Regions from separate parts of the Homo sapiens genome. Here all the other regions are reported to be linked to region 6. Evidence: microRNA targets listed by miRTarBase, many of them from high-throughput screens and not tested one by one. Region 6 holds a microRNA gene; each other region holds the end of a gene's coding sequence. Distances are from middle to middle.
Evidence for each region. Region 6 holds the annotated microRNA hsa-miR-340-5p (UUAUAAAGCAAUGAGACUGAUU, at 1,880-1,901, opposite strand). A microRNA usually pairs through its seed, bases 2 to 8, with sites in the 3' UTR of a target mRNA and lowers its output. Matches are read on the target gene's strand: a 7mer-m8 pairs with bases 2 to 8, a 7mer-A1 pairs with bases 2 to 7 and ends in A, and an 8mer does both.

Region 1 (5,354 bases), not on the chromosome of region 6:
ATGCATTTGTTTGTAGCAGTGAAAGTTCTTGTTTCTATATCCTCCTAAAATATATATATTATTGAATTAATGAAAGTCCAGCTTTGATCCTATCTTTGAGAGGGTTATTTTATGTCTTATATTTTTCAAACCATTTACTCCTCTGGTGCCAGATCTGTTAACTTTCTTTTAAAAATAAGACAAAAACCTAATGAAAACTGAAAGCCCATTGCTACCATGAAAAACTTTGCTGAAAATAAAAGGAAACTTTCTGTAATTTTGGGGGAAGGTTAAAATGAAAATCTAGTTTTCCTTATCAGGCAAGTATAGCAAGATTAATAATTTCTTTGGCAAATTTCCAAGAAAATAAGGGAATGGGAAACCTTCAATATGGAGCTTCTTTCAAGCAGTACGGTTGGGGAAGGGCAGAGAAGTATCCTCTAGGGATTGCTGTCATGCAGCTTACCTTTAGCCTTGAATTTCATACAAGGCAGAGTTCAAAGTAAGTGATTACTTGTACTAAATGTACTCACTTAGTACGTTTTGGGGACAGGCATAAAGAGCCAATGACCAAAATGGCTGAAGTGATTTGGCAGGGAATGATACTCTCCTCTGATTTGGGGTAGTAAATACACCAGGTTTCCCAGCTGAGTCACTGTAGGGATGGCTTCTTCCCAGATACTACAGGGAAGATCTGTTACCTTTGTTTATAAGACAAAAGACACTTTCAAAGGGCAGGTCTTTTCATGTAGAAGAGTCAGGTCCATAACTCGGTAGCATTTAATTTGAAAGGTTACCCACATTGAGCTCATACCAGTGTGAAACTTCCATGGCATTATCTTTTAAATCCCTAAGATTAAAACCCCACACAAATGCACTCAAAGCAACCCAATATCAGTATCCTGCAGTTTCTATGGGCCCTTTCTGCAGCCTTTACTCATGGAAGACAAGGGATCTGGGTTTGTTTAGGAAACATTTTGTGAGCATTGTCCAAGCCCTAAGTATGGTTGGCCTAAGCTTTGCTGAAGCTAAGATCAGTCTGTTTATGTTTGCTTAAAATAGGAACTTAAAGGACTAAAATGTCATCATTATTTATCCTGATTATAGCCTAATGGTATTTTATTTTCTCTACAGCAATATGACTGCTAAAAGAACCAACCCAGGACAGAGCCACAATCTTCCTCTATTTCATTGTAATTTATATATTTCACTTGTATTCATTTGTAAAACTTTGTATTAGTGTAACATACTCCCCACAGTCTACTTTTACAAACGCCTGTAAAGACTGGCATCTTCACAGGATGTCAGTGTTTAAATTTAGTAAACTTCTTTTTTGTTTGTTTATTTGTTTTTGTTTTTTTTTAAGGAATGAGGAAACAAACCACCCTCTGGGGGTAATTTACAGACTGAGTGACAGTACTCAGTATATCTGAGATAAACTCTATAATGTTTTGGATAAAAATAACATTCCAATCACTATTGTATATATGTGCATGTATTTTTTAAATTAAAGATGTCTAGTTGCTTTTTATAAGACCAAGAAGGAGAAAATCCGACAACCTGGAAAGATTTTTGTTTTCACTGCTTGTATGATGTTTCCCATTCATACACCTATAAATCTCTAACAAGAGGCCCTTTGAACTGCCTTGTGTTCTGTGAGAAACAAATATTTACTTAGAGTGGAAGGACTGATTGAGAATGTTCCAATCCAAATGAATGCATCACAACTTACAATGCTGCTCATTGTTGTGAGTACTATGAGATTCAAATTTTTCTAACATATGGAAAGCCTTTTGTCCTCCAAAGATGAGTACTAGGGATCATGTGTTTAAAAAAAGAAAGGCTACGATGACTGGGCAAGAAGAAAGATGGGAAACTGAATAAAGCAGTTGATCAGCATCATTGGAACATGGGGACGAGTGACGGCAGGAGGACCACGAGGAAATACCCTCAAAACTAACTTGTTTACAACAAAATAAAGTATTCACTACCATGTTGTTGTTGTTTAGTTTCATTATCCTTAAAAGTTCTCTTTTTTCTCCCCCCCCCCCTTTTTTTTTTCCAGTTTGCAAGTTATGTGGCCCCTATTGCTAACGGCTTCCTGTCTTTTTGTTTCTTTATCCTACTCTCTCATCCTCTTTCTCCTCTTCTTTCTCTGCTGTCTGTAAATTGCCATTGCTGTACCTGTGGGATCATCACCCCAGTTAGGCACTGGTCCTTTCTACCAGGTGCTGCAAGTATCAGCCTCCCTGGAAGGGTAACAGGCATTTTTCTCCTTACTGTACAGGGTTAGGCTCTTTCAAGTGACAGGATTCCTGGACTTATTGGGAATTTTCTATAGAAATGTTCCGTTTTTGGTGTTCATTGGTCTGGACAACAGATAAGCAAATTTATAAAGAAGCATAACCAGCTATTAGACAGCAGAGCTCCTCCTATGGGCAAGCTGCCCTGCAGTGGGCGGCTCCTGACTGAAGGTTTCAGCCTATTCTGTACCATAGTCCCTCTGGCAGGCTGGTGAAACCTACAGACACCTTCGAAGAATAATGTTCATAAATTCATAAAATGCATAGAATTATGAAGAAAACCAATACACTAGAATATTTTATGAAAATGTTTTTTTAAACATATAGTGTAGTTGTCTTGACAGCCAGCTCTGTCACGTCAACACCTGTGGATAGCAATAACGTGTGTCCTAACAGCCTTCTAAGGAGTCGGTCTAAGAACTATCCTACTTTTTTTTTTTTCACTGAGCAGAGTTAGCCAATATGCTAAGCACATTTATTATTTATTTATTTTTATTTTTATTATTTTTTATTTTCTTTAAGTTCTGGGACGGAACGTGCAGGTTTGTTACATAGGTATACACGTGCCATGGAGGTTTGCTGCACCCATCAACCCATCATCAACCACATGCATTAGGTATTTGCCCTCCCTCCCCTTGCCCCCCAGCCCCCTAACTGTCATACTTTTGAAATACAATTTCAATTAAAATGATATTTCGAGATACCTGCAGCAAATTTAATGTGATATGAAAACATATGCAAATTTTTATTGTAGATCAAAGTATGATCAGTATTACTGATGCTACTTTGGTTTGTTGCATAGTCATAATTAAAGGAAATATTAAATTTTTGTTATAAGTTAGTAAAAAATGACACTTTTTTCCCATCTAAGTTTAACACCCCACTCCCCCAGTTATTTATCCATGGGGTCTTTTGGGAATTCTTGGACACCAGATTAAAAACCCCTGCAATACAGGATCCAAGATAAAAGGCATAATAATCAGTCATAAGCATCATTTTTTCCTAAATCTATCCTCAAAGGACATAGCAATAATAATTATCAACCATTATCATAATAACAGCAACAATTTCTTGAGTCCCTTCAGTATGTCACTTATTGTAATTAGTTTTACACATACTATTCCACTGAAATCTCTCAGCAGCCCTAGAAGGTATTACTTCTCTCTATTTTATAGACTCAAAGCTCAGTGAGGTTAAGTAATCTGTCCAAGGCCACATCTTTAGCAAATGAAAAACACTGTAGCAAAAAAAAAAACAACACTGATTTAACTCCAAGTTGGTGTAACATGAACACGGTGTTTTCCCTGCTCCTCTCCTCTGCCTCATCTACCTGCTCTGCCACCAGGGCCCAGGGGCTAGAGTCTTCCTCCTATCCTACACTGGCACTCAGATACTCCACCCACCTAATGGGGACTTTGACAGGCCCCTGAGAGCCTTAGTCATCCCTATCCTAGAGCCTAAGTTTGAGTGACTCAACATTTCCCCTTGTTTGTGAATCTTTTAATAGTAGACATTGTCATCACCTGAAGGAAATAGCTTACACAAATTACCTTACACCCTCCTTAAGTTCTGTTTATAGCCTACGCTCCTGGTTTGTAATATTCTAGGCCTTTCAATTTGGCTGGAAACTCCCTCAGGGGTTGTACTAAAACAGCTCATTCTTACCTGACAACATTAAAACAATAAAAATTACTGTAGAATCTGAATCACTTGAATAGTACACGTGGCCTCTGAGTGTCAATTTACCATAGTGACCAAATTTACAAATACATTCCTACATAAAGGAAATCTCATGCACTGAAATCTCAGACAATTGATAGAATGCTACCTTTACCACAGTATGAGTTTCTTGTATGTGTGTGAGATCTTTTTCATTGTTTTCTCTGATGCTTACCCATGGTGAGAACAGGTATGGGATTTGATGCAACTTTTCAGAAAAGCCATTTGGTGATCTGTGTCTACAATATATAAAGCCTACACATCCTTTAGCCAAGTATTTTTACTTGTAGAAATTTATTTTAAGAAAATCATCAAGGATGTTCACAATAGTTCAGTTTCCAGTAATAATTATGGGAGTATTGTTTGTAACACCAGGAAAAATGGCAAGAGCCTAAATCTCTGATAACAAGGAATTGGTTTGATAAATGTAGTCAGTGGCTGTTAAATCAGGGTAAATGTATGAACCGCACAACATTACATGAAAGAGAAAGTTTCGAAAATATAGAAAAGAAGGGTTCTATGTCTTTCTCTACTAGGTATATGTATATTATAAATACCCTTTAAATATATTACTGAAAAGGAATTTCAATCAGATTCAATGTGATTTTTGTCTTGATTCATTTCGCTTATCTATACTTTCTGAAATTTCTACCATAAGCACATATTACTTTTAGAAATAAAACAAAAATGAGATGAGAAGAAAGATTCAGTCCTAAAATAATTCAGGGAGGAGCCCGCAGTCTTTAAGGGAAACTCCCCAGGTATGTAAGAAAACCATTGTTCTTGTGCTTGGACAGAGGAGTCATCCTACAGTAAATACAGGGGAATAATTATGCCTGCAATTAGGTGAAGGGATGGGCCAGGTGAGGCTGGCAGTAACCATAGGCTAAAAATATAATGGGGAGCCTATAATTTCAATTGCATGTTTGGGAAATGTTAAGTGCACAGTTTCTTCTTAGACAAGCCACCAAGTAAGATTTTTACAAATATCAACCATGTATCTGTTTTCTGTATTTTAAAACGAAATGGCATACCTTTACTTTGAACATTGGCTTTTTATCAGGGCTTTGTGTACTACAGCTTGGATTTTCCTTATTTTAATTTTCTCTGCTCACTGCAACCTCTGCCTCCTGAGTTCAAGCGAGTCTCCTGTCTCAGCCTCCCAAGTGGCTGGGATTACAGGCTTATGCCACCATGCCTGGCTAATTTTTGTATTTTTAGTAGAGACAGGGTTTCACCATGTTGGCCAGGCTGGTTTCGAACTCCTGACGTCGTGATCCTCCCACCTCAGCCTCCCAACGTGCTGGGATTACAGGTGTGAGCCACCCTACCTGGCCCTCCTTCTCTTAACAT
Region 2 (5,128 bases), 57 Mb from region 6:
CTTCTGTTGGAAATTTGCCCTTTTAAGTTAGGAAGACTGACCCCCATCTTACTGCTCTCTTTCGAAGCTAGTCTAATGGAACAAGTAGACTCAGGACAACTTGGACTAAATGCACTGTAAACCACAATGGAAAAACTGCAGTGAGGTATTCCCAGTAGAAATCTTGGAATTCCTTCAAGTATATTGAGATTTTGTTAGAAATTGAATTGCCAGTGTAATCCATCTTCCTTTTGAGAAAACATTCAGATAAAGAGCTGAGGCCTAGCAGCATTAACTGTTAGAACATCCCTTAAATCAATAAGCTACAAATCTGGCCGCACATTCCTGCCGCGCCTGGTGGTGTGCTCAAGTGGCTTTAGGCTGAAGCAGCATGACTGATAGCACATCCTCAACCAGGCACATGCCTGGCGATGCAGATTCCTGTGTTTACCGTAAGCATTGCCTTGTTCCATTCTACAGAATGCAATTATATTTTGTTTCACATAAGAAAAGCAGTTTTTCTTTTTTTTTTCTTTTTTTTTTTCTTTTTTTCAGATTTTCCAAATGTGGTTATTGAAGGAGTCCTCCATGGGATATTTTACCCTCATCTACAGCCCAGGTAGAAATCCTACATGGCTAAAAGAAGCAGAAGCAAGTTTCGAAGTCACAGTCAAGGAAATCAATACCTACCAATTTAACCTAAACGCTATGATATATAACAGCTCTAGCTAGTGGTAAAGTGCACAGTCCCAGCTTAATTCAGGGCAGGGACATTTCCATTAGAATGGTGCTCTTAAAAATAGAAACTGAACCGGGGCGGTGGTCAGGCTAAGGCCAAGTGTTTAAGAAGTAGAGTGTAGCTGCCAGCGTAGAAACCCATGAAAAGGAGGCCACAGGAGATTCCTGGGAGCACTGGGTGTAGCAAAACAAAGCCACTCTCTGCTTCAGTCGCACCATTTGCTAATTGAAAATCATATCCTGAATCATACTGAGACTGATCAACTTTGGTAGCTTTTTTGTTCAGATCTTATGACACACTACTCTTCTCACCGTGAGATTTTCTCAGCCAGTGATAGTACATTCTGAAATGCTGGCACCAGGAGACGGCCACAGACACACACTGCTAAATGTGAAGATGGAACTAAACTGGAAATTAAATTATACTGACAATATTATGGCATTTTTAAGATCATGGCATTTTAATTTACATTAGAGTGGAGTTGCATCATACTCAGGGGTTAGCTTCCAAGGTCAGTACATAGGTAAAATGGGCTATTAGGATGATCCTTGAAAGCCCTTTAGAAGGGTGCCATGTTGGAAACCTGTACATCCACAACAAGTAGCTTTTCCTCCTATGTTGGAAAAAAAGACTGTTTCTTTGTTTGAAGACCAAGTGAAGTTGTTGGTGTTTGTTTAGGGGCCATTTTGTTAAAAAAAAAAAAAAAAAAGCACATAACTTTTAACACTAGAATCAGCCCGCAAGATGCTTGCCCCGCTAGTGGCAGATGTGAACTGACAAGGAGTGAAGCGCCCACCCAGCGGATGGACAGCACCCACCTGGGTTTACTCAAGGGTGTGCATTCATTTTAGGTGGGATCGCCACAGGATTTCATGTTATTTTCCTTACGGCTTCCTTTTCACTGACCTCATTTGTTGAGTTAATGTAAGTTAAATGTGTTTATGATATAACTCCACTGTACATCATCCTTTGAGTAGTAAAGGATAAAAGCATATATACTACCTATATGTATGTGCTGTATGTGGGCATTTCATTGAGATCTAATTAATAGCTAGCCTATTTATGGTTATTCGTTTTAGTAAGTTCTGTGGGAGCAAGGTATTTAAAATCAAAACTAATAACTACATCATGGTTTTTGATTAGGATCTAAATATTCAGGTTTTAAGCCTGCTGCAAACTTTTAAAATATTATGATAGATTCTGTACTACATGTGGGAAACAAGCAAGAACTAAATAATCAAATGTTGTCAACCAAAAGTAATAGTTGGGTATTGGAGATTTTTTTAAAATGTTTTTATGTTATTAGCTATTTGGAGTTAAATAAAAACAGAACAAGGAAACATTTGAGTTTGTCTTCTCCTAAGATTTCACTGGAAACATGGTTTGTATCTGTCTGTTTACACACACACACACATATGTGCACACACAAAACCTCTCACACATTCACATAGATGTTTATTTCTAATATGATAAGATAAATTATTATAATAAATTATCTCATCTATTAAGTCAGTAGATGTTCATTAAATATTTGATGATTTACCAAGATAATAAGAATTTTTTTGAAAAAACCAAGTATCTATAGTGGTACACTGCCCAAGAAATCTTTTCTGAGAATTAAGTTTTTTCTTAGTGATGACTTTCGCTTTTTATATTTATGTAAATTTTATTTCCCATGTCAAACAAGTCATATGCAGACATCATAAGATTTGCAGGAGGCACACCTCACAAGAGTGGGAAAACCCAGTCATCACACTTATGCACTACACAAGGATCATATCTATTTAAACTTTTAATGTGTAATTCTGTCAGGGTTATTGAAGGAACTAGAAACCAGTGTAGGTCTTTTACGCAGAAAAGGCTATAATGCTGAAAACTGAATGCTTACAGAATCTGTTGGAAGGGTGAGAGGAGTGCACTCCTGGTAGGTGTCCAAGAACAAATTCCAGAATGCCCCAGCAACTTCTAGCACTGACCTGCCTGGGGAGCTACAGCCTGTGCTGTAAGCAGGAATACAGGGAGTTAGGGGGCTGTGAGCGAAGCTCTTGAGGTAAACAGCATGAGAGCTGCAATCCAGGGATCAGCAAGTAGAATCAAAAAGGACCTGTTATCTCCATGAGATACGGAGCTCCCAGGAAATATAATGGCGATCTCTCTATGAGGTGCGGCCTCATAGCAGCACCCAGGAAGCTGGTGACTGGGCCTGCATCACAATTGCCTATCAACATCCGTGGCCTTGCTTGCCAGCAACCACAGCCCAAAGTGGCAGGAGGATGGTATTCGCCCACTCCCACCTCCCACTCCATAGCTCCCTTCAACGCACATCCAGTTTGTAGAACCTTATTCTCCATCCCAGGTGCAGGGAGTCTGGGAAGAAGCTGCTAGCCTTCTACAGCTCAGGAATGCACATGGGAAAGATGATGGAACTTTTTTTTTTTTTTTGAAGACGGAGTCTTGCTCTGTTGCCCAGGCTGGAGTGCAGTGGCACAATCTCAACTCACTGCAACTTCTGCCTCCTGGGTTCAAGCATTCTCTGCCTCAGTCTCCTGGGCAGCTGGGATTACAGGCGCATGCCACCACGCCTGGCTAATTTTTGTATTTTTAGTAGAGACAGTGTTTCACCATCTTGGCCAGGCTGGTCTTGAACTCCTGACCTCGTGATCCAACCACCTTGGCCTCCCAAAGTGCTGGGATTACAGGCATGAGCCACCGTGCCCAGCCAGAACATATTTCCATCATTTCCATGGTTGAAAATTTAATAAAAAATATATAAAACTATAGATAAAAAATAAATTTGTCTCCCATCTCATCTCCTAATACCGAATTCCCGTTCCACAGAAGGGAGTACTTAATGTGTCTGTACTTAATGTGTCTACTTTGAGTAATATTTCATCTACATACAAGCAGATATTGTATGTTTAGTGTACATATATTTAATTTCTCCTCTTTTACAAAAATGGTAGCACGCAATACCCATTGCTTTCTATTTTTTTTTATTTAACAATATCTTGGCAATCTTTCTGTATCAGTATATAAAGTGCTATTCTCTTTTTAAAAAAAAAAAGCTGTATGGATCTTCTATAATTTGTGTAACCACTACCATATTGATAGACATTTTACTTTTCGATTTCACTAGGCATGCCTGGCCCATATTGCTCTACAGGTTGTGCATTGCACAAGTCCAAGCAGTGTCATTCACATGGACCACAGTGTTAATAGTATTCCAAGTCATGCTTGGAACCCTGCACTTGGGGAAATATCAAAAACTTTAATCATTCAAACCATGGATTCACAGGCAATAGAGAAGTAAAGGACAGAGAAAGGAAACCAGAGGAAGGAAAAGGAAAAAAAAAATCCCATTACCACTTAAGTCAGGATGTGGGGACATCATTTGTCCTGCCTGGTTCCTGGACTTGGTGTTTTGCCTGGACTGTCTTCGATGCTACCTTATGCAGTGCCTCTCAGGCCTCATCTCTGCCTACTCATTCTGCATATTGGCAGCCCTCGTGTCCTTTCTCCTGGTGTCCTTGTTACTGCCCCCATTACAATCAGCCATGTGAACAACCCCAATATCACCATGACCATCAATACCTGGTAAATCCTACAGTTACAGTTATAAGTTCCCATTGAAAAGAAGTTGAGCTCTCTTAATCAGTTTAGAGAAATATGATCACACTTTTGAAATAACAGATGGTTTTCATCTCATTTGTCAACTTTGATCGATTGACAATGGCTGCTTGAAGTGCTGCATCAAGAAGAATTCTGGCACACCTGTGAGGATGGCTACTATCAAAGCAGAAAATAACAAGTGTTGGTGAGGAGGTGGAGAAATTGCAACCCTTGTAACTGTACATTGCTGGTGGAAGTGTGAAATGGTTGCAGCCTCTGTGGGAAATGGTATAACTTCTTCAAAAAATTAAGCATTGAATTGCTATGTGATTCAGCACTTCCACTTCTGGATATATACCTAAAAGAAGAAAGCAGGGACTCAAACAGCTATTTGTATAATGATATGGTTTGGCTGTGTCCCCACCCAAATCTCATCTTGAATTAATCTTAGTTCCCATAATCACCACAGGTCGTCAGAGGGACCTGCCAGGAGGTAATTGACTCATGGGAGCAGTTACCCCCATGCTGCTGTTCTTATGATAGTGAGTGAGTGCTCGTGAGATCTGATGGTTTTATGAGGGGCTTTTCCCCCTTTTGCTTGGCACCTCTCCTTCCTGCCATCATGTGAAGAAGGATGTGTTTGCTTCCCCTTCTGCCAAGATTGTAAGTTTCCTGAGGCCTCCCCAGACATGTGGAACTGTAAGTCAATTAAACTTCTTTCCTTTATAAATTACCCACTCTCGGGCAGTCCTTTATAGAAGCATGAGAACGGACTAATACATATATTCATGTTCATAGCAT
Region 3 (5,354 bases), not on the chromosome of region 6:
ACAAGTGATTCTCCCACCTTGGTCTCCCAAAGTGCTGGGATTACAGGTGTAAGCCATCATGCTTGGCCTTATTTTTCTTTTAAAAATGATACACGGCTGGGTGCAGTGGTTCACGCCTGTAATCCCAGCACTTTGGGAGGCTGAGGTGGGCAGATCAGATCACCTGCAGTCAGGAGTTCAAGACCAGCTTGGCCAATATGGCGAAACCCTGTCTCTACTAAAAATATGAAAATGAGCCGGGCATGGTGGTGGGCACCTGTAATCCCAGCTACTTTTGAGGCTGAGGGAGGAGAATCGCTTGAACCTGGGAGGCAGAGGTTGCAGTGAGCTGAGATTGTGCCACTGCACTCCAGTCTGGGCAACAGAGCGAGACTCCGTCTCCCCCAACCAAAAAAAAAAAAATAAAATAAAAGTGGTATGCATATATATGTATGCAGAAAAAACAGGAAAGAGGAACAGTTTTTTTTTCTTTTTTGCTTATTTGTCTTCTAAATTTTCTATATTCTAAGTGTTCTATAATCCTTTTATAATTAAAGAAAAAAATTTTAAGTTTTATTTCAGGACACCATTGGAATTAATACTGAATAAATTAACTAAAATGAGGCTGGGTATAGTGGCTTATGCCTATAATCCCAGCACTTTGGGAGGCCGAGGTGGGTGGATCACTTGAGGCCAGGAGTTCGAGACCAGCCTGGGTGACATAGTGAGATCTTGTCTCTGCAAAAAAAAAAATGTTTAAAATCAGCCAGGTGTGGTGGTGCCTGCCTGTAGTTTCAGATACTCGAGAGGCTAAGGTGGAAGGATTGCTTGAGTCCAGGAGTTTGAGGCTGCAGTAAGCTATGATCATGCCATTGCAGTTCAGCTTTGGGTGACAGAGCAAGACCCTGTCTCAACAAAAACACAGAAGTATGTATAATGATATATAGTCCAGGTATTATTTAACAGTAATATTGTTTATTTTAAAATAGCAATTGTTAATTCATTGTGAAATCTATTTTTTTTTTTAAGAAAAGTATCCTTCAGTGTTTTTTTTTTTTCCTTTTTAACTTAGAAATTTTGGTGAGAAGAAAGTTATTTGATCTATGTATGTGTGGGATGCAGCACTGATCAAATGTGTCCATTTCTTCTGGTGAAATGTGTGAAGCACCTCCTAGGCTCCTCTTGTACTGTTCTCACTTCAGCAGAGCCAAAGAATTATCCTCTTCCAGTTGGTTGTATTGCTATTACTAGAATTTCCATATACTCAATGTGTCAAACATATTGAGAATATTTTAAAGTACAGCAGTTATTTGGAATAGTTGAAAAGCTAATTCATATTGTCCAGTTTAAAAGAAATCATAAGATGTTTCGTGTAGAAAGCAAAATAATTGTAATTTTAGTGTTTATACTTGCTCTTTTGCTAAAAGAAAGGTCAGTTTGGTGGTGATTATAGAACTTGGTATAGAATTCTAATTAAACTTTTCCCATTGTTTTCACCTAGGAAGCCTTGGAAGATCGTTTGGAAAGGATTAATCGAGAACTGGGTTCAGTTCGCATGACGCTAAAGAAATTCCATGTTTTGCGCACCTCTGCAAATCTTTGAGATTTGTAGCCATTAAATTTTGAGACATTTTTGTTTGCACTAATGTATAATTATGCAGTCAGAAAAGGCAAACTATTTTGTACTGTTTATAAGCCTTCAAACAGTAGTTTTACAATCATGCTATTCTTACACTTGCTATTTTATACTTCAAATGGCCACATATTTTCAAGATATTTTTGTTATGCTCAGGAATCTCTTGTATATTTTACTATTTAAAAAGCATTATTTTTAAATAGTATCTGTCTCCAATTTATATCAAGAATAAGGAAATATAAACAGAGGAAGCAGCTTGTTTCTAAACAAATAGTGTTATCCTTTTACAATTAACTGCACATCAATTTTATAGACTTGTTCTACATTGTAAATACAATTCAGTTTTTAAAAAATAAAGCTTAATAGCTTCCATAATGATAGACTAGTACATGCTGAATACATAAACAATTACAGTGTACCTTGGATTTCAGTTGTGTTGAGGTTTTTAAAAAATGATAATGCAATTCGTATTTGAAACGTGTCTTAGAGTGAATATCAGAATAGTAATAATGGACTCTTGGAAAGCTTTGAAAACTACATGAATATAACTCATTTTCTTTAAACTTTATTGTCTGTAAGAGAAAAAAGAGAGATTGTAATTCTCTAATTTTATCTTTTCTAAAAAAGTTAAACAATTGGAGAGCCCTCTCTGGAGGGCTCTCAGAGTAGCTCTCTGCCCATTGTTCTGAATTAACTTGTGTCCCACCCTGGACAATAAATGGACAGATAAACCCTTTGAAATACAAGCCACCACCCCGTGAGGGATTAAGAGGGCAGCCTGGTTTTCTTAGTGTGCATGGCTTCAGCTGTCCGTCATAGTTGTCATCTGGATATGTTCACCCCTTTCCACTCCTTCACCCTGGCCAAAAGGAAAATATTTCCACTGTAGGTGCTGTAAGAACACTAGACTTTAGATCATCACAATCTACTGTATTTGTTAATGGACAGGGAGTGTGTCCGGATGGAGCCTGGTGCCTTCCCCTCGGCCTTGCAGAGGGCTCCAGCCCACTGCCTCTGTGGTAGCCGCTGGCTCTCAGAAGTAGCACGTGGGCAGGAGTCTCTCCTCTGATCCAGGAGCATTGGCAGGTTTGTGTTGGGACTGCTGGTTAAGTTGGAGCTGTGTAACTACTTAGTTTTTGGTAGCCAATCAGAACGCAGTGCCCCACATATTCCAGCTCGGTACATGTTGATAAACAGACTCATCCAAACTTTCAAAATGGATTCGTACTAAACATGCTCAGGTTTTAAATTTTGGTTTGCTTTTGAGCTTTTCCTCTTTATGTGGCTCTTAATAATAAGTAGTTAGAATGAACCAAGCCATCCCAGTTATTCCAAGCAGGCTCTCAAATGACCTTTGAGCACCCTTCACCTGGCTGGTCCCCAGGCCAGGGGTCCACAGCCCTGCTCCCTTCTCAGCAAGGAGGGTGGCCTGTCTGACAGTGCAGTTGAACCTTTGCTCCCTACTCTGCAACTTTTGAAGACTTCAGGCTAATCAAAATTACTTATAATTAGAATCAAGTGCCTTTATTCTTGTTTTTTATTTTTATTTTATTTTATTTATTTATTTTTTTAGATGGAGTTTTGCCCTTGTTGCCCAGGCTGGAGTGCAATGGCATGATCTCAGCTCACTGCAACCTCTGCCTCCCGGGTTCAAGCGATTCTCCTGCCTCAGCCTGCTGGGTAGCTGGGATTACAGGCATCTGCCACCACGCCCGGCTAATTTTGTGTGTGTGTATATGTCTATGTGTGTGTGTGTATGTATATATCTTTTTTTTTTTTTTAGTAGAGATGGTGTTTCACCATATTGGCCAGGCTGGTCTCAAACTCCTGAACTCATGTGATCCGCCTGCCTTGGCCCCTCAAAGTGCTGGGATTACAGGCATGAGCCACCACACCCGGCCTATTCTTGGTATTCTTTATTCTTGGTTTTCTAGCCTTTAGAAAAAAAAAATCTAGTCTTGGTAAAGAAAATGTTCATTTTAATCAAGCTCCAGTACAGCTTGTGTCAAGACCTAGTAAGACCACCTTTAATGTGTTCCTGGATATGACATTAAAAACTAACTTGAAAATTGTTAGGATATTTCCTTGTTCCCTACTTTTATTGTAAAATCTACTACATTCTTAAGAATTAAAAAATGCCATTTCAGAAGAGATGATAGTTTTATCTTGCCAAGGAATTATCTTCTTAGTAGCCTATATTGGCTTATTCCAAAAAAGGCGTTAACCTCCATCAAAACATCTTCTGCGCCTCTCTCTCAGCATATGCTTTGATATTTGAAGTGTGTAATAGATTGGAGCTATCAGTCACTTATTTCTAAAAAATGTATTCTTTTTTCTTCATAGCTGTGAAGAGGGATACCAAGGAAAGTTCTTTCTGCTGTCTTTCTCTTCGGTAATGCTTATCTTATGAACACTCAACTGAAAAAACACTCCACCTAAAAGCAGGAAAGATGGCAATTCTAAATAGCAGCTATTATCCCCGGGTATAAACTATTTTTGTTGTTGGCTTGGGGCTTTGCTGCAGGTATTAATAGTTTAAAAAGAAAAAAAAAAAAAAAACCCTAAGCAAATCTGCCACCTCTGGGAAGTGCCTTTTAAAATGCAAATAGAAAGTGAACTCTCCCCTGATGCCTGGATCTGCCCCCTTCCTTTCCCTTGCTAAGCCTCTGTTTGCAGGAGCTACTCCTGAGGTATGGAAATGGTCTTTGCAACTGAAGGACTTTTCCAACTGAAGCAACAGATGTAGCTAAAGTGGCCGTGCTAGGGTTGTGCAGAGCTGGGCTCAGGGGACAAGAAAGGAGAGACTTGGAGCCAGAGAGACCTGGGTCACATCCTGGCACAGGCCTGCCTTTCTCAGCTATAAGATGAAATAAGAAAACTCCTTTCATTAAGGGAGATTTTGTAAAGTGCCTGGTGCTTAGTAAGTGCTCAAGAAATATTATATTTCAGATTCATTGAGTTAAGTAGGTTTTTGAGGTAGCATCCTTTTTTTTTTTTTTTTTTTTTTTTGAGATGGAGTCTCTAGTTCTGTTGCCCAGGCTGGAGTGCAGTGGTGTGATACTGGCTCACTGCAACCTGTCTCCTGGGTTCAAGCTATTCTCCTGCCTCAGCCTCCCGTGTAGGTGGGATTACAGGTGCATACCACGCCTGGTTAATTTTTGTATTTTCGGTAGAGACGGGGTTCTCACCATGTTGGCCATCCTGGTCTTGAACTTCTGACCCCAAATGATCTGCCTGCCTTGGCCTCCCATAGTGTTGGGATTACAGGCGTGAGCCACTGCGCCCAGCCTTGAGGTAGCATACTTTCTGAAATAAAAAAGTAGATTATGTCCGAAGCAGTTGACCTAAAAACTGCCTTGGACTGACATTTGTTAGGTGGTCTAAGATGTTCTCTTCACGCTTTGCAAAAAAATGAGCTTTTTTGGAGTTTAAATTAAGCATCCCTCTGGTGTGTTTGGTTTTTTAGCCACCAAAAATTTAACAAATTTGATAACCTGTCACGTGTAAGTTCAGAAAGCACTTTGGTCTTAATTGGTGACTTGGGGGTTATTTGGTATAAATATAGGTTGTTTTTCTAAAAATTATTGCCAGTATCCTCCAAATAATTGCCCCTTCAAATGTTTCATCTAAAGGTGACAGCTTGTGGGCAGAACCATGCACAGGAAGTGCCTGCCAGTGGGTGTTAGGAGATGTAGGTGGAGTCTGTGATAGCCAACCAAAAGCTATCCCCTTCTCGCCC
Region 4 (5,354 bases), not on the chromosome of region 6:
TGAGCCACCACACCCAGCTACTTGTGAATGTTTTCAGAAAATGTTTCTATCATAAACTGGGAAGTACATCTTCTTTTTTAAAAAACATGTAATCAGGCCGGGCGTGGTGGCTCACGCCTATAATTCCAGCACTTTGGGAGGCCAAGGCAGGCCGATTACTTGAGGTCAGGGGTTTGAGAACAGCCTGGCCAACATGGCGAAACCCCAACGTGGTGAAACTCCGACTCTACTGAAAATACAAAAATTAGCCAGGTGTGGTGGCGGGCACCTGTAATCCCAACTACTCAGGAGGCTGAGGCAGGAGAATTGCTTAGACCCAGGAGGCGGAGGTTGCAGCGAGCTGAGATCGTGCTACTGCACTCCAGCATGGGCAACAAGAGCGAAACTCCATCTCAATAAATAAATAAATAAATAAATAAATAAAAGCAATAGTCATGAACATTCTTGTGTATGTACCTTCTAGTGCTTTTCCAAGTATGTATATTTAAGATAAATTCCTATTTTTGCCAGTTCAATGGATATGTAAATTTAAATTTTGATAGATTTTATCAAACTGCCTTTGTAAACATGGCTGTATCAACCTAGACTCCTATTAAAATCATATATGTTCTTGTTTCTTCACATCCTTGCTAGCTCTGGATATAACCCGTGAAACCTTAAAAAAAGGCTTCTCCTATCCCATTTCAGACCACTTTTATCAGAATCTCCTAGGGTTAAGAACTAGGCATCAGTGCTTATTTATTTATTTAAATTAAGTTTTTTGGTAGAGATGGGGGTCTTGCCATGTTGCCCAGGCTGGTCTCGAACTCCTGAGCTCAAGCAATCCACCTGCCTTGCCCTCCCAAAGTGCTGGGATTACAGACATGAGCCAATGTGCCCAGCTCATTTTGTTTTGTTTTGAGACAGGGTTTTCCTCTCTCACCCAGGCTAGAATGCAGTGGTGGCATCACTTGACCTGAGCTCAACTGATCCTCCTGCTTCAGTCTCCTGAGTGGCTGAGACTACAGGCATGCACCACCACACCTAGCTAATTTTAATTTTTTTGGTAGAGACAGGGTTTTCCTATGTTGCCCAGGCTGGTCTCGAGCTCCTGGGCTCAAGCAATCCCCCTGCCTCGGCCTCCCAAGGTGCTGGGATTATAGGTGTGAACCACCATGCCAGGCTTGCATCAGTGTTTTTTTTTTTTTTTTTGTAGAGACGGAGTCTTGCTCTGTCACCCAGGCTGGAGTGCTGGAGTGCAGTGGTGCGATCTTGGCTCACTGCACCCTCCGCATCCTAAGTTCAAGCAATTCTCCTGCCTCAGCCTCCCGAGTAGCTGGGACTACAGGCGCACACTACCATGCCTGGCTAACTTCTTTTGTATTTTAGTAGAGACAGGGTTTCACCATGTTGCCTAGGCTGGTCTTGAACTCCTGAGCTCAGGCAATCCTCCTGCCTCAGCCTCCCAAAGTGCTAGGATTACAGGCGTGAGCCACCGCGCCCGGCTGCATCAGTTTTTTCAAAAGTTCATCAGGGTGAAAAGGATACGTAGCCCAGTCTTGTGAATCTTCTCATTCACTGGTTCAACAAATACTGCACTACCAACCACATAATTAGTACAAAGCCAGGCAACAAATACTTGAATTCTTGATAAAAAAAGAAAATAAAAACATGCTTCAATTTTTCTCCAGAGAATGAGGCAGGGGACAATAAAAACCAATCTATATCACCTAACCTAGTAGGCACTAAGAGGCTGATCTCATTTGCTTTGAGGACAAGGCTGCTTCTCACCCCTTCCGCATCTGTTTTCCTCTTGATGAGCCCCTAAAGAGATGCAGCAGAGTTGGGAGGTGGCTCAGGGAAGACAGCAGAGTGGAAAGGTCAAGCTCAAAGGTAAAGGGAGGGGATAGAAGCAGATTACCTGTCGACCGTCTTCTTAAGTCCCATGGCCTTTTGAAAACTCTGCAAGAAAAGGTAGTTCTGTTGATCTGCCTCAGTCTCCAGAACCTCTATTCTAATGAGAGACATAGACCTTTTTTTTTTTTGAGACAGAGTTTTGCTCTTGTTGCCCAGGCCAGAGTGCAGTGGCGTGATCTCGGCTCACCGCAATCTCCGCCTCCCGGGTTCAAGCGATTCTCCTGCCTCAGCCTCCGAGTAGCTGAGATTATAGGAATGCACCACCATGCCGGGCTAATTTTGTATTTTTAGTAGAGATGGGGTTTCTCCATGTTGGTCAGGCTAGTCTCGAACTCCTGACCTCAGGTGATCCGCCCACCTCAGCCTCCCAAAGTGATAGGATTACAGGCGTGAGTCACCGCACCCAGCCACATAGACCTTTTTGAGAAAGCAATTTCCTGGGGGGAAATAGGGAGAGGAAAGCTCTACTTTCAGAATGGATCAAAGAAAACACGCAGGGGTTGGATAGAACACATATTTGAATACCTACTGTGTACTAGACACAGCCTCCCACTCCTGTTACTAACTACATTATACCCTTGTTACATCAAAAGCCTTTCCCAGTAAAAGATGCACTTATAGTAAATTGATCTGGAAACTTCATCAAACTTCAACCCAGCCCCTCCTTCCAACTCTGCATACCTCTTCTACTTTTGTCATCTTTTCCACAGACATGTCTATAGATTTGCTTGATACAGTCTGAGGAGACTGACAGGCTCCTCTGTTTAGTTCAGTAACCAAGGTTTCAGTAGTCATAGTAACATTTACACCTCCAACAATAACCCTGGGCCTAGGAGTTGATTGGCCACCTGGCCTGTTGCCCCAGAAACCTTGAGAGAATCCTTGTTCTGCAGCCTTCTGTTGGTGACACAGGCATCTATGAGCAAGGGCCACAGTCCTGATTTTAGGATTTCTTGTGCTAGGGTCCCAAGGAGTATGTGTATGGTCGTAGGTCCAGGGTATGCACACAGTCCCACCAATTCTCTGGAGGCAAATCCTCATGCCCTATACCCTGTTAGAAATGTGCAGATAACATTATCAAATGCCTGTTTTATTAAAAGACAACTATAAAGGACTGATTCATACGTTTTATTTGATAATAGTTCATTTTATTAAATAATTTATAAAGTCAGACCAGTGCATTGGGCTTGTTAGGGGAAACCATTCCTTCCTACTGTCACATAGCCTGGCAGATTATATCAGGTGCCAAAACATTCCCTTTTATTCAATTTATTAATGAGAGTGTGGAATTAAAGTAGATCCTTGCATGTCAGGAAAGCTGCAACACATCTGGTTTAAGTGGAGCACAAAGGTAAGTTATTCCACATTCACCAACTTCCCCACTTGACCTCCCACCAGTTCCTGTCTGCTTTTTCCATCAATCAACTCTAAGATGCCCTAAACCCAAACAGTTCCCATTCAACTGTGCACAAAGGTATAGATATGGAAGACATCTCACTCCAACTCTCACCTTTGGAATTAAATAAACCTGGAACAGGGAAGGTGAACTATGGCTGAAACCAAGTGAAGATTTTTAAGAAGCTTTGACAGAAACATTAAGAATAACACCTGAATGCAAATCCAGAAAAAAGCGCTACTGGGGGAAAATAGTCTTAGCCAATGTTCTAAAAATGCTCATAAGGAAGGGTTGGGGAATTACCCTTTAGACACAAGCTCTAAGAACTCTGGATACAACGGGAACTTGGATGGATACAGTCTGGGCCTGCTGGGCCAGATGTTCCGAGGGCGGCCCGGCAAGCAGCCTGTCTTGCACATTGCAACTGACTGGCTTAATCTACGGCAAGAGTCCTTCAGCTCCGTCACAGAGTACTCTCCAATGTGTTATAGTTATCCTTAAAGCTCTTCAATTCAAGGAAGTGCTTGGCACGTTTACTCTTCTGACTGGAGGGGAGGTATGTCACCTGGATGGTTGTTGGGGAGACCTCAGGGGACTGAGTTAGGTCTTTGGCTGCTGACTGGTGATGTCGCTGAGAGCTCCCAATTCGTGCTTTAACCCTGAAGAACAGAGAGGGGAGGTCATTGACAGAATGAGGACTAATCAAAGAAATCAGGGCTTATCCCAGGCCATAAATGCAGCAATAGTCACAAATAGTTATTTGTGTCCTATCTGTCCTATTTTGTAAACTAGTTACTAAAACCCCATCTAGTAGCTTAGAAATACAAGAGGCTGAGCGCGGTGGCTCACGCCTGTAATCCCAGCACTTTGGGAGGCCCAGGCAGGTGGATTGTTTGAGGTCAGGAGTTCGAGACCAGCCTGGCCAACATGGTGAAACCCTGTCTCTACTAAAAATACAAAAATTAGCTGGGAGTGGTGGCGGGTGCCTGTAATCCCAGCTACTCGGGAGGCTGAGGCAAGAGAATCACTTGAACCCAGGAGGCAGAGGTTGCAAGCCAAGATTGCGCCACTGCACTTCAGCCTGGGTGACAGAGCAAGACTCCATCTCAAAAAAAAAAAAAGTAGCAGAGAGGCTGGGCATGGTCACTTATACCTGTAATCCCAGCACTTCAGGAGGCAGAGGCCAGAGATCGCTTGAGCCCAGGGGAGTTTGAGACCAGTCTGGGAAACAAAGTGAGACCCTATCTCTGCAAAAAATTAGCCAGGTATGGTGGCAAGCACCTGTAGTCCTGGTTCCTCAGGAGGCTGAGGCAGGAGGATCGCTTGAACCCAGAATTCGAGGCTGCAGTGAGCCATGAATGTGCCACTGCACTCCAGTCTGGGCGACAGACTGAGACCCTGTCTCTCTCTCTCACACACACCCTAAAAAAGTAGCAGCACTCCAGCCTGGGTGACAGAATAAAGGCCCTGTTTGGGTACCCTGACACACACCTACTCATACCAAAAACAACTAGCAGCAGAGAAACCAATTTCCCAGAGTTCTTGCCTCTGGCTCAAGCTTTTTTTTCAGAGACAGGTATCCCCAATATAGGTATCACCTTGTTTTGCAGATTAGGAAACTAAGGGTCCAATAATTAGCTTGTATGAGGTCACAAAACTAGTTAAGTGACAGACCTGGGATTCAAACCTAAGTTTGTCAGATTTCAAAGCCTATACTCTTCACTAAACCCAATGAACATTCCTAGAAACTACAAATCAAACATAATTTTTTGTTTTTGAGATGGAGTCTTTTTCTCTGTTGCTCAGGCTGGAGTGCAGTGGCACAATCTTGGCTCACTGCAACCTCTGCCTCCTAGGTTGAAGCGACCTGTCTCGGCCTCCCGAGTAGCTGGGGATTGCAGGTGCATACCACAATGCCCAGCCAATTTTTCTATTTTTAGTAGAGACAGGGTTTCACCATGTTGGCCAGGCTGGTCTTGAACTCCTGACCTCAGGTGATCCACCCGCCTCAGCCTCCCAAAGTGCTGGGATTACAGCCGTGAGCCACCATGCCTGGCCTTCA
Region 5 (5,101 bases), not on the chromosome of region 6:
CTAGTGTGTATATTTAGTTGGTTGAGGCACTTCTTTCTAATCATGAAAAGTTGAGCAACTATATGCTACCATAGTGCTGAGCCACCAGTTATTTTTGCACATTAACAAGTGGAGCCCTAGTTTAACTCTAAAAATCGCCATGTAGAGCTTACTTATACTTTCAAATAAATTTACATGAATTTACTTAATATATTAAAATGCCACTTAAGTAATTCCATAAACTATGGCTCAGCAGTCCATCTTTCCTTGAGAGTGGCCCTGGTTAATCTTTATGTTAATTTTTTTCCAAGACTCCTGGGTTTTACAGTTAAGAGGTTCAGTTAATCATTAAACTGTATCGTTGTTAGCACGTAGGTAGCTTTATATTACTTGTACCAACAAAACTTAATTTTTGACACACCTCTAATAACATCACTTTTCTGTTTTGGAAGATCAAAGCCATCGGCCAGACAGAGTTGAATGCAAGCAATCCAGAAGAAGTGTTACAGCTGGCAGCGCAGAGAAGGAAAAAAAAGTTTCTCCAAGCAATGGCAAAACTTTACTTTTAAGCAGTTAAATTTTTTTAACTTTTATTTTTTAAACAATGGGCTAAAAATAAACAGTATTAAAAGGTTAAGTTTATATAATACATATGTACACAATTAGTGGTGTTTTCTTTTCAGACAAAATACTGAAACAAATATTAGTTTAAAAACAAACTATACAGAAGACTTCATACCGTAACAATAAATGTATAGTTTCTTCAAAGGGAGAAGAGATTCACATATCTGATAACAAAATAAACTAGCAATCTAGTTTTCTAATCTACTTTATGAGGCTGGATTTTTTTTTTAGAAAAGCTAATTTAAAATATTTAGAAATAGCTAGCCTATGTACAGCAAGTTTTCATGTCTTTTTTTAATAAATAGATTTCTAGGAGTCAGTATATATTTAATACTCTTCTTCCTTAAGAAAATAGAAGTTTAGGTCAAGTGTTAAGCTTTATCACTTTGACACTGTCCTTATCTCACAATGGAGGAATTTAGAAAGGACCTTAACAGTTTCACAAACATAAATAAAGCCTTAGTCACACTAAATTAAAAAAAAAAATTCCTTAGGGATATCTTAGAGTAGTAAAGTGACTTCCTCATATAAATAGTTTGAAAGGGTACTTAAGTTTTTCACCCAAATTGTGATATACAAAAAGGTTATTACCAAGCAACCTACATGTCAAGAAAGCCCCAGTTAGGAAGGAGCCACAGCATTTATCTTGTTTATAATTTCTTTGGTACTCCCACTGTTTAGAGCACAGGTTGAACACCATGTTCATCTAAGCCTTATTAGTTAAAAAATGTGTTATGGCAAGGCAAATAAACTAGTTTAAAAAACATTAAATTTCACCATTTGTAGAAATTCAAGTTTTATAATAGCTTGCTATAGCAGCTATAGATAAATTAGTCACCTTATTACAAAACTAAACCTTTGTAAACAAGTTTAAATTTAATTTTCAAGAACCAAATTGCACTAGTCAAGAGTGTAGGAATTTTGAGAATCTAACAACTAGATTCAAAGTACTGTATCACTTAGTATACCCTTTAAGGTAGCACTTATCCAGTCCAAAACTCCAGTGACAAAATTCCTAGTTTATCAAGATAAACACAGTAACACTGGATTAAAGGAAAAACATTGCTATGGTATAGACTGTGGTTGGCTTCTATCCAGTAACCTTGGGAATGAAGACATCTTTGTAAACAAGTCCTGCTGTTTCTTTAACAGCTAACATAGGAAATAATTAAATGTATTCTTTAGTGCCAATTGTAAGTTTTAAAATCAGAATGGCAGTGTAACTTGTGAATTGGCTAGGGCAATCAATCACAGCACTACTTTCTGTAAAACTTTAGTAGTTCAGTGATACCAGTTCTACCCAATCTTGGTGAATTCCAACTTGTTTGCTTAGTTATCTTCTTTAGTGTTTTCCTGGTGGTTTTTCAGTGCTCTTCGGTGGTGTCATAATGCCTCCATTGCACACTGGTGACAACTGTCCCCCTTTTCTGAAGGTGTTTATGTAATTTACTTCCTCCTATACATGGGAAGAAATCATGCACTGATTTCATAAATCAAAGTCAAACCAGACTTCTGGGTACTTATTTGAGATTATTTAGGCCTAATTTTAATAGTCTTTTTATGTCTTTGCAAGTGTGAAGGGTCATATTCTGAAAGTTTCTGTAACGTTATATATTTTTTAAACTCTTTATCTAGACTGTTGGCATTGATCTTGAGACACTTCACAAATCTTGCTTTGATTTCAAAGTAATTTTATTAACTTTTCTACATTTTGAAATCAGTGTGCCCCTTAGAACTTTCTTTCCCCTGAAACTGCCTGAAGGAGTACTCTATTCCTACCATCAGTTTTGGTGACTTACTAGATTCAGATAGCAAAGCCAAAAAACTCACAAAAAAACATACCAGCATAGCCAAATAGTTTGTATGTGTCTGGATATTATGTCTGTCTTCCATAGGAATCTTCTTAAAAGTCTTCAGCTTCACTGGACTAGTACTTTTTACTACATTGACAAAAGGTACCATCCAATCTACACATTCTGAAATACTGTCCCACTCCAAACCTAGATAGATAGAAAAAAGTTAGAAAAGCATGAAGGTTGTACATCAGAAACTATCTTACATATGTCTGATGTACTTGTTGCTGTTTTTGAGATATTTTAAAAGAAACCAAATCATAACCAAGAAGTTTAGCATGTCAAAACAGATTATCACTCTCAAACTATTTACATGACTATGTTGAAGGGAAAAAGGACTTCAGAACTTCTTAACCAGTACCTTCTACATATGAAATTGAAATGGTCAAATCCCAAAGAACTCTTAAAGCAGAACTATAATGTTGATTCATTTCAACTGTATTTAAATTCCATTTGGTCTTTTTGTTGATACACATTCAGGATTGGAAAGTACTTCTAACAGAAAGATAATTACTGAACAGCTAATTTTTTTTTTGCCAAAGTTTTAAATGCATGTTTAGCAGAATGTTAAAGTTCAGAGACTGTAGTCCCATTAGAAGTTGTGAAAAGGTAAGAAGACAACAAATAGAGAGTCTTACCTGAGGCTTTCTTAACCACTTCAATGGAGGTAAAATGGCACAAGGCAGCAGCAGTCAGTATTCTGTACTGGAACTCTAATGAATCAATGGCTAGAATACACAGATCTAAAAGCTAACAGGAAAAACAAAAGTACAAGCAATTTAGGAGAAAGATGAGTACTAAATGTCTCTTGCTAAAACCTTAGGGATCTAGAGATAAATAAGCCACCACCCGGCCAGGCGCGGTGGCTCACGCCTGTAATCCCAGCACTTTGGGAGGCCGAGGCGGGTGGATCACAAGGTCACGAGATCGAGACCATCCTGGCTAACACGGTGAAACCCCGCCTCTACTAAAAAATACAAAAAATTAGCTGGGCTTGGTGGCACGCGCCTGTAGTCCCAGCTACTCGGGAGGCTGAGGCAGGAGAATGGCGTGAACCCGGGATGCAGAGCTTGCAGTGAGCAGAGATCGCGCCACTGCACTCCAGCCTGGGCGAAAGAGCGAGACTCCGTCTCAAAAAAAAAAAAAACAAGCCACCAACCTGAAGGAAGTAGACAAGGAAGGACTGTTGCAATACAGTGTGACATGTACTAGCAGGAAGGGCACCTAATCCAGATTGGAAAAGATAGTGATGGCCTCAAATTGCCATAAATGGGTCTTAAAAGATAAGGGAGCCAGGAAGAGTAGGAGGCAGAGAATGTTCTAGGTATAGGGACATTACTTGGAACTCAGTTCACAGTTCAGAACTCCTAAGGTGAAAAATAAATAAGGAGTACCTTCATTTCTTATCAAGAAAGATGAGGGGTGGTGGCTAGAAAGAGGCATGGTCTAGATTGGATCACAAAGGGTCTTTAAGAAGTCAGAATTTTATAGGCTGATTCTTGAAGCTACTGGAAGATTTTTAAATCAAAGTTCCATTTTAAGAAAGATACCTTAGAATGCAGTGAAGCAGACAGACTAGAAGAAAACATGTTTATTAAGCAGTGAGATTAGTTAAAAGGCTGTATAATCTAGGCAATAAGAGCTGAACTAGTAGCAGTGGAATGGTATAGTGTAAAAGGGGTAGATTTCACAGATTTGAGAAGATACTTGTGCAGTGGAATTAAACTTCAATTCTGTTTGTCCTCATTGGTCCAGAAGGTAGGAGAAATGGGAGAAGAGCTGGGAATTGGAAGTGAAATATTACTGTTATATACCTCTAGAAAGTCCACATTGTTTATCGGCTTATCAAAGATTTACCATCACTATCAGAAGGGTATAGCTGCCTAGGACAATTTGGGATGCTAGGAATTCTGGATGAAAAAATTAAGCTTTTAATAAAAAGTTTTATAAAATAAACCAATTTCAGTATACTTAGTGGTTATCCAATTTGAGTATTCATAATGTGCTAGATTTAAGCACCACTGCCCACAAATTTTAACCTAGGTGACTTAATAATTATCCCCAAATGTCTTCCATATGTTAGATTTTCACATCCCACATAGAATAAGAGGGTAGATTTTCTTCACTTTTGTTATATGGCAGATACAGCAGCCTTAAGATTACTTACGAGAAGTAAGCAAGAAAGAATGGGATCTCCTCTTTTTTTTTTTTTTTAATTTTTTGAGATGGAGTCTTGCTCTGTTGCTCAGGCTGGAGTGCAGTAGTGCGATCTCGGCTCACTGCAACCTCCACCTCCCAGGTTCCAGCGATTCTCCTGCCTCAGCCTCCCAAGTAACATGTTGGCTAGGCTGCCTCAGCCGCCCAAACTCCTGACCTCAAGTGATCTGCCTGCCTGCCTCAGCCGCCCAAAGTGCTGAGATTAGAGACCTGAGCCACAGTGCCCGGCCAGATCCTCCTCCTCCTCTACTTACTTACTTTGTTAAATATGCTAGCCTGGAAAAGTTTACTTTGAATTTATGTTCTAAAAAATTTTTTTAACAAAGTAATTTTAATTCTGATATTTAACTTGATAGGCACTCTGTGTATCCAAATGTAAAGACATCATACAGAATAATTCTATGCCATTATAAAGCTTAAACACAACT
Region 6 (4,000 bases):
AGGAACATGTAATTTGTTGTGTGGTACTTAAGACTTAAACAGACATAAGGCATAGAACGACTGCAGTGTTAAGAACCATATTAACTTGTCTGACAACTACATTTTTAAAAAAAGATTATTAAACCAGCCAAATGTGACAACAGACAGCAACATAACATTATACAGCAAGAGAAGTGTATCAACATCATGGTAGATTTACACTGTAAAACCTTTTCTATTTTAAAATGATCTTCAGAAAGTCTTAATTCCTTAAGAAATGGAGTAAAGTGCTGTTTTTATAGCATAAATTGGTACTTCTTGCACTAATCTAGGAACATTCATGGAGTACCCACTGTCTGTAGAACTAGTGCCAGGAACAAAAACAAGTACAGGATACCAAGCTTTCTAATCTCACTGAGACAGGGGACACACAGCTGGTAACAGAGCTACAAAGTGCCAAATGGTGCCACCTTTTATTAGTGACATCTGAAACTAACTTGGGTCTTATGTCCAGACTTGAGTGGAGTTGAGGCTCCTTGCTAGTTTACCCCAGAACTCTTCTGGAAATCAAACGTTCCAGAGACAGGTCCAGGCTTCAACATTCTGGACCAGTTTGGCATCGAAATACCTCCAGCCTCTAACAGTTGTCCAGAGGTCTGCCCACAAGCACAGGCTATGCAAGTTAATTACGAGGACAGTCTTAAGTTGCCTTATAGTTACCTAGACCTTTCCCCTACATAATTTCCAGAAGTAGTAACAGTGAAGGAATTGAATACCTCTTCCTATGGACAGCAGGAAACTGCTATCCCTTTCCTCCTCCACAAAGGAAATAACTTCCCACTGTCTTTTAAGGAAACAGAGAAACTTCTATCAATCTATCAGCGATTGTCCTTTCATAAGCTGAAGCTGCCGGTGGCAACATGTAGCTTCTACATTTGCCTTCTCCAGAGAGCCCCTGAGAGAGACTAGGGGTCATTAGAAGGGAAATAAATATTTTATTTTGGGAAAGAGAAAATTATAACCACTTATTTGAATTTGAATAAGGTTTGTACATATCAATGTAAACCAACAAAACAATCAAGCAGAAGTCCCCAAAACTTGTCCTTTTCAATCCTTCTTCAATGAATAACACATTGAAATATTTGGTTTTACATGTTTCATTTACCATATTTAGCTAAAAGAACCATCTTTGTGTTACATGCAGTCACAGAAGACTACACGCAACTGAAAAGAAATTCAACAGGGCTGGGCGTGGTGGCTCATGCCTATAATCCCAGCACTTTGGGAAGCCAGGGCAGGTGGATTGCTTGAGCTCAGGAGTCCAAGACCAGCCTGGGCAACATGGTGAAACCCTGTCTCTCACAAAAACAGGAACATTAGCTAGGCATGGTGGCACATGTCTGTGGTCCCAGATACTCAGGAGGCTGAGGTGGGAGGATCACTGGAGTCCAGGAAGTTGAGGCTGCAGTGAGCTGAGATCACGCCACTGCACGCCAGCCTGGGTGACAGAGCAAGACCCTCAAAAAAAAGAAGAGAAATACAACAGTAAAAGGAGTTTTATGGAAAATGTAACCCAATGGAACATATACCTTTTTACTACCTTACTCAAAATTGTTACAGCCACTTTATTAGAACAGCAGTTTACCAGAATACCGATTAAAAATCTACAAAAAACTATAAAATTAAAGCAAGCAATAAACATCTAATTAATATCTAATTACCTTTCTGAAATAAGAGTTGTGATCAGTAAATTAGAGACAATCACAAAATAATGCTAAACCGCTTTAAATTTCCCTTTAGAAATCTCTTAAAATGTTGTTCAACGGGCCATGATCTGTGGTATAAGATACCAGGTATGGCTATAAAGTAACTGAGACGGATCCCACAAACGACATATGACAATCAGTCTCATTGCTTTATAATCACACCAGGTACAAACGGTTTTAGAAATCAGTTGAGGCTCCCTCTTGAAGACTCAAGCTGGAAAAGGAGTAGGGAAAGGAGTAGGGAAAGGAGTAGGGAAAGGAGTAGGAAAGGAGTAGGGAAAGGAGTAGGAAAGGAGTAGGGAAAGGAGTAGGAAAGGAGTAGGGGAAGGAGTAGGGAAGGAGTAGGGAAAGGAGTAGGGAAAGGAGTAGGGAAAGGAGTAGGGAAAGGAGTAGGGAAAGGAGTAGGGAAAGGAGTAGGGAAAGGAGTAGGAAAGGAGTAGGAAAGGAGTAGGGAAAGGAGTAGGAAAGGAGTAGGGAAAGGAGTAGGGAAAGGAGTAGGAAAGGAGTAGGAAAAGGAGTAGGAAAGGAGTAGGGAAAGGAGTAGGGAAAGGAAAGCTGAACAGGTAGCCAAGGAAACCAATCCATGTGATTCTATTCAAAGAACACTAAATAAGAACACCAACTAATTTCAACGGGAAAGCTGTTTGGGAAAAGAAGTGTGTAATTATTTCAACCATCCATTCAACAATATTTATTGAGCACATACTATGATCAGGCTCCTTTCACCTCTTAAAGAGAGTAGAAAATTACCTGCTCTTGATGCAAAAATCCACACGCCCTCAGGAGCAAAGGGGGAACCTTTTGGACTAGGAAGAGAAGCCGCTCGCGGTGGCGTCATTACACCAGCACAGAGAAGAGCCGGGCAGAGGAGCCCGACCCTGCCGATCGGGCAGGAGGACAGCAGAACGAAAGCCCGCCACCAACTTGCAAAGGACTGGAGTTTTAGGTCTTAAATCTTTTACAGAATCTGGCGAAAGTTATATAGGAGTCCCCTCCTAGGAGAAAGGGCCTTCTCCCCATACTCCACCCCTAAAGCCTGATAGGGCTCAAAGACCCTGACCTAAAGCTGCCTCAGACACTTGACTTTTAAGGATCTGAGGAGCTCTGGCCCAGTTTCACGCCAAAGGAAATGTAGGCTTCACAATAAAGGGCCGGTCAGAGGAGGCAGTGACTGAAAAGAGTGAAGAATAATTAGACTGTAACGCTGTAAATATCAAAGCACATTTGGGACATGCCCCACCACTCCCATGTCCCAGGCCCTGGGCAAACACTGCTAGTAAGTCACGGATGCGGCCACGCTCCCACGCACTTCCACGTCTGGCCGCCAGTACTAACTGTCAGAGATGGCAATCCAGTGAAAGCCCATCTGTGATCCCTGCTTCCAACTATTTTCTTGAGAAACTTCCCCCACTGTTATTCTTTAACAGGAACTTCTGTTTCCACACTGCTTGAGTCTGGCTACTTTAATAAACAATTCTATTCTTTCCACTTTCATCCTGAGAATTTTCAAACCCATAGAGCAGTTCCAATACTGTGAGAACACTCATGGACCTTTTATTTAGATTTGTCAACATTTTGTCCTTTCTATATGTATTTATTTTTGCTGAACCAATTAAGAGTAAACTGCAAACACATGACATTTTATTCTTAAATACTTCCACGGTCCCTCCTAAGAACAAGGCTAGCTACGTGGCCACAATTCATTTACTTATCCTCAAGAAATTTAACCCTGTGTTCTTTAATAGATGGTCCATTTTCAGGTATCTGTGGTGATGACTTTAATAGCTGTTTAACTTGTTTAGTTTTGTGTCCAGGATTCAATCGGGGCTGTCGGCATCATGCTTAGCTGTCATGTCTCATTAGTCTCCTTTGATCTAGAATAGTTCCTCAGTCACTTCCGGTCCATTCATCACAACACTGACCTTTTTAAAGAGTCCAATCCAGATGTTCTGACCATGCCCCTCAATCTGGATTTGACTGTTTCCTAATGATTAGATCTCCAAATTAAATATTTCTAGTAAGAATACCACAAGGTGATGGCGTGTCCCTCCTCAGCTCGTCACTTCAGGAAGTGCAGGCCGGGTTGTACCTTTATTTTTGGTGGCAAATTTTATGACTTGGTTATTTTGGTATCTGCCAGGTTTCCTCACTGTAAATAAATGTTTTCCTCTTAATTAATAAGCAATCTGTGGGCTGATACTTCCAGATTGTGTGACTAGCCAGTTCCCCAAAAACCTTTCACTCAATGCTCTCAG

Region 1: miRTarBase lists TM4SF1 as a target of hsa-miR-340-5p. Seed matches in the 3' UTR shown: 7mer-A1 at 1,507-1,513.
Region 2: miRTarBase lists SNX24 as a target of hsa-miR-340-5p. The part of its 3' UTR that is shown has no 7-base or 8-base seed match.
Region 3: the mRNA of MPHOSPH9 is a reported target of hsa-miR-340-5p. Seed matches in the 3' UTR shown: 7mer-A1 at 1,668-1,674.
Region 4: the mRNA of LTAP1 is a reported target of hsa-miR-340-5p. Seed matches in the 3' UTR shown: 8mer at 3,057-3,064.
Region 5: miRTarBase lists INTS8 as a target of hsa-miR-340-5p. Seed matches in the 3' UTR shown: 7mer-A1 at 1,253-1,259 and 7mer-A1 at 1,400-1,406.

Annotation. Positions count from the first base shown.
Region 1 is chr3:149,365,640-149,370,993 of GRCh38, reverse strand. It overlaps TM4SF1 (transmembrane 4 L six family member 1), which reads left to right. Exons shown (of 5, transcript NM_014220.3): 5 at 1,114-1,972. The coding sequence ends at 1,128. Among named protein-coding and RNA genes, the nearest start is that of TM4SF1, 9.3 kb to the left of the region's middle.
Region 2 is chr5:123,007,148-123,012,275 of GRCh38, forward strand. It overlaps SNX24 (sorting nexin 24), which reads left to right. Exons shown (of 7, transcript NM_014035.4): 7 at 535-2,058. The coding sequence ends at 602. LOC124901213 (small nucleolar RNA U13) reads right to left here and starts at 2,493; the gene lies at 2,395-2,493.
Region 3 is chr12:123,153,035-123,158,388 of GRCh38, reverse strand. It overlaps MPHOSPH9 (M-phase phosphoprotein 9), which reads left to right. Exons shown (of 24, transcript NM_022782.4): 24 at 1,481-4,174. The coding sequence ends at 1,582. Among named protein-coding and RNA genes, the nearest start is that of PITPNM2, 4.6 kb to the right of the region's middle.
Region 4 is chr1:154,203,698-154,209,051 of GRCh38, forward strand. It overlaps LTAP1 (lipid transport auxiliary protein 1), which reads right to left. Exons shown (of 7, transcript NM_001098616.3): 7 at 3,023-3,951. The coding sequence ends at 3,756. CFAP141 (cilia and flagella associated protein 141) reads right to left here and starts at 2,636. Exons shown (of 4, transcript NM_001010979.3): 1 at 2,578-2,636; 2 at 1,901-1,941. The coding sequence starts at 2,610.
Region 5 is chr8:94,879,687-94,884,787 of GRCh38, forward strand. It overlaps INTS8 (integrator complex subunit 8), which reads left to right. Exons shown (of 27, transcript NM_017864.4): 27 at 432-2,060. The coding sequence ends at 548. CCNE2 (cyclin E2) reads right to left here. Exons shown (of 12, transcript NM_057749.3): 10 at 3,095-3,206; 11 at 2,446-2,603; 12 at 538-2,059. The coding sequence ends at 1,946. Among named protein-coding and RNA genes, the nearest start is that of CCNE2, 13 kb to the right of the region's middle.
Region 6 is chr5:180,013,482-180,017,481 of GRCh38, forward strand. MIR340 (microRNA 340) reads right to left here and starts at 1,916; the gene lies at 1,822-1,916. The region is part of intron 2 of RNF130 (ring finger protein 130); the gene reads right to left.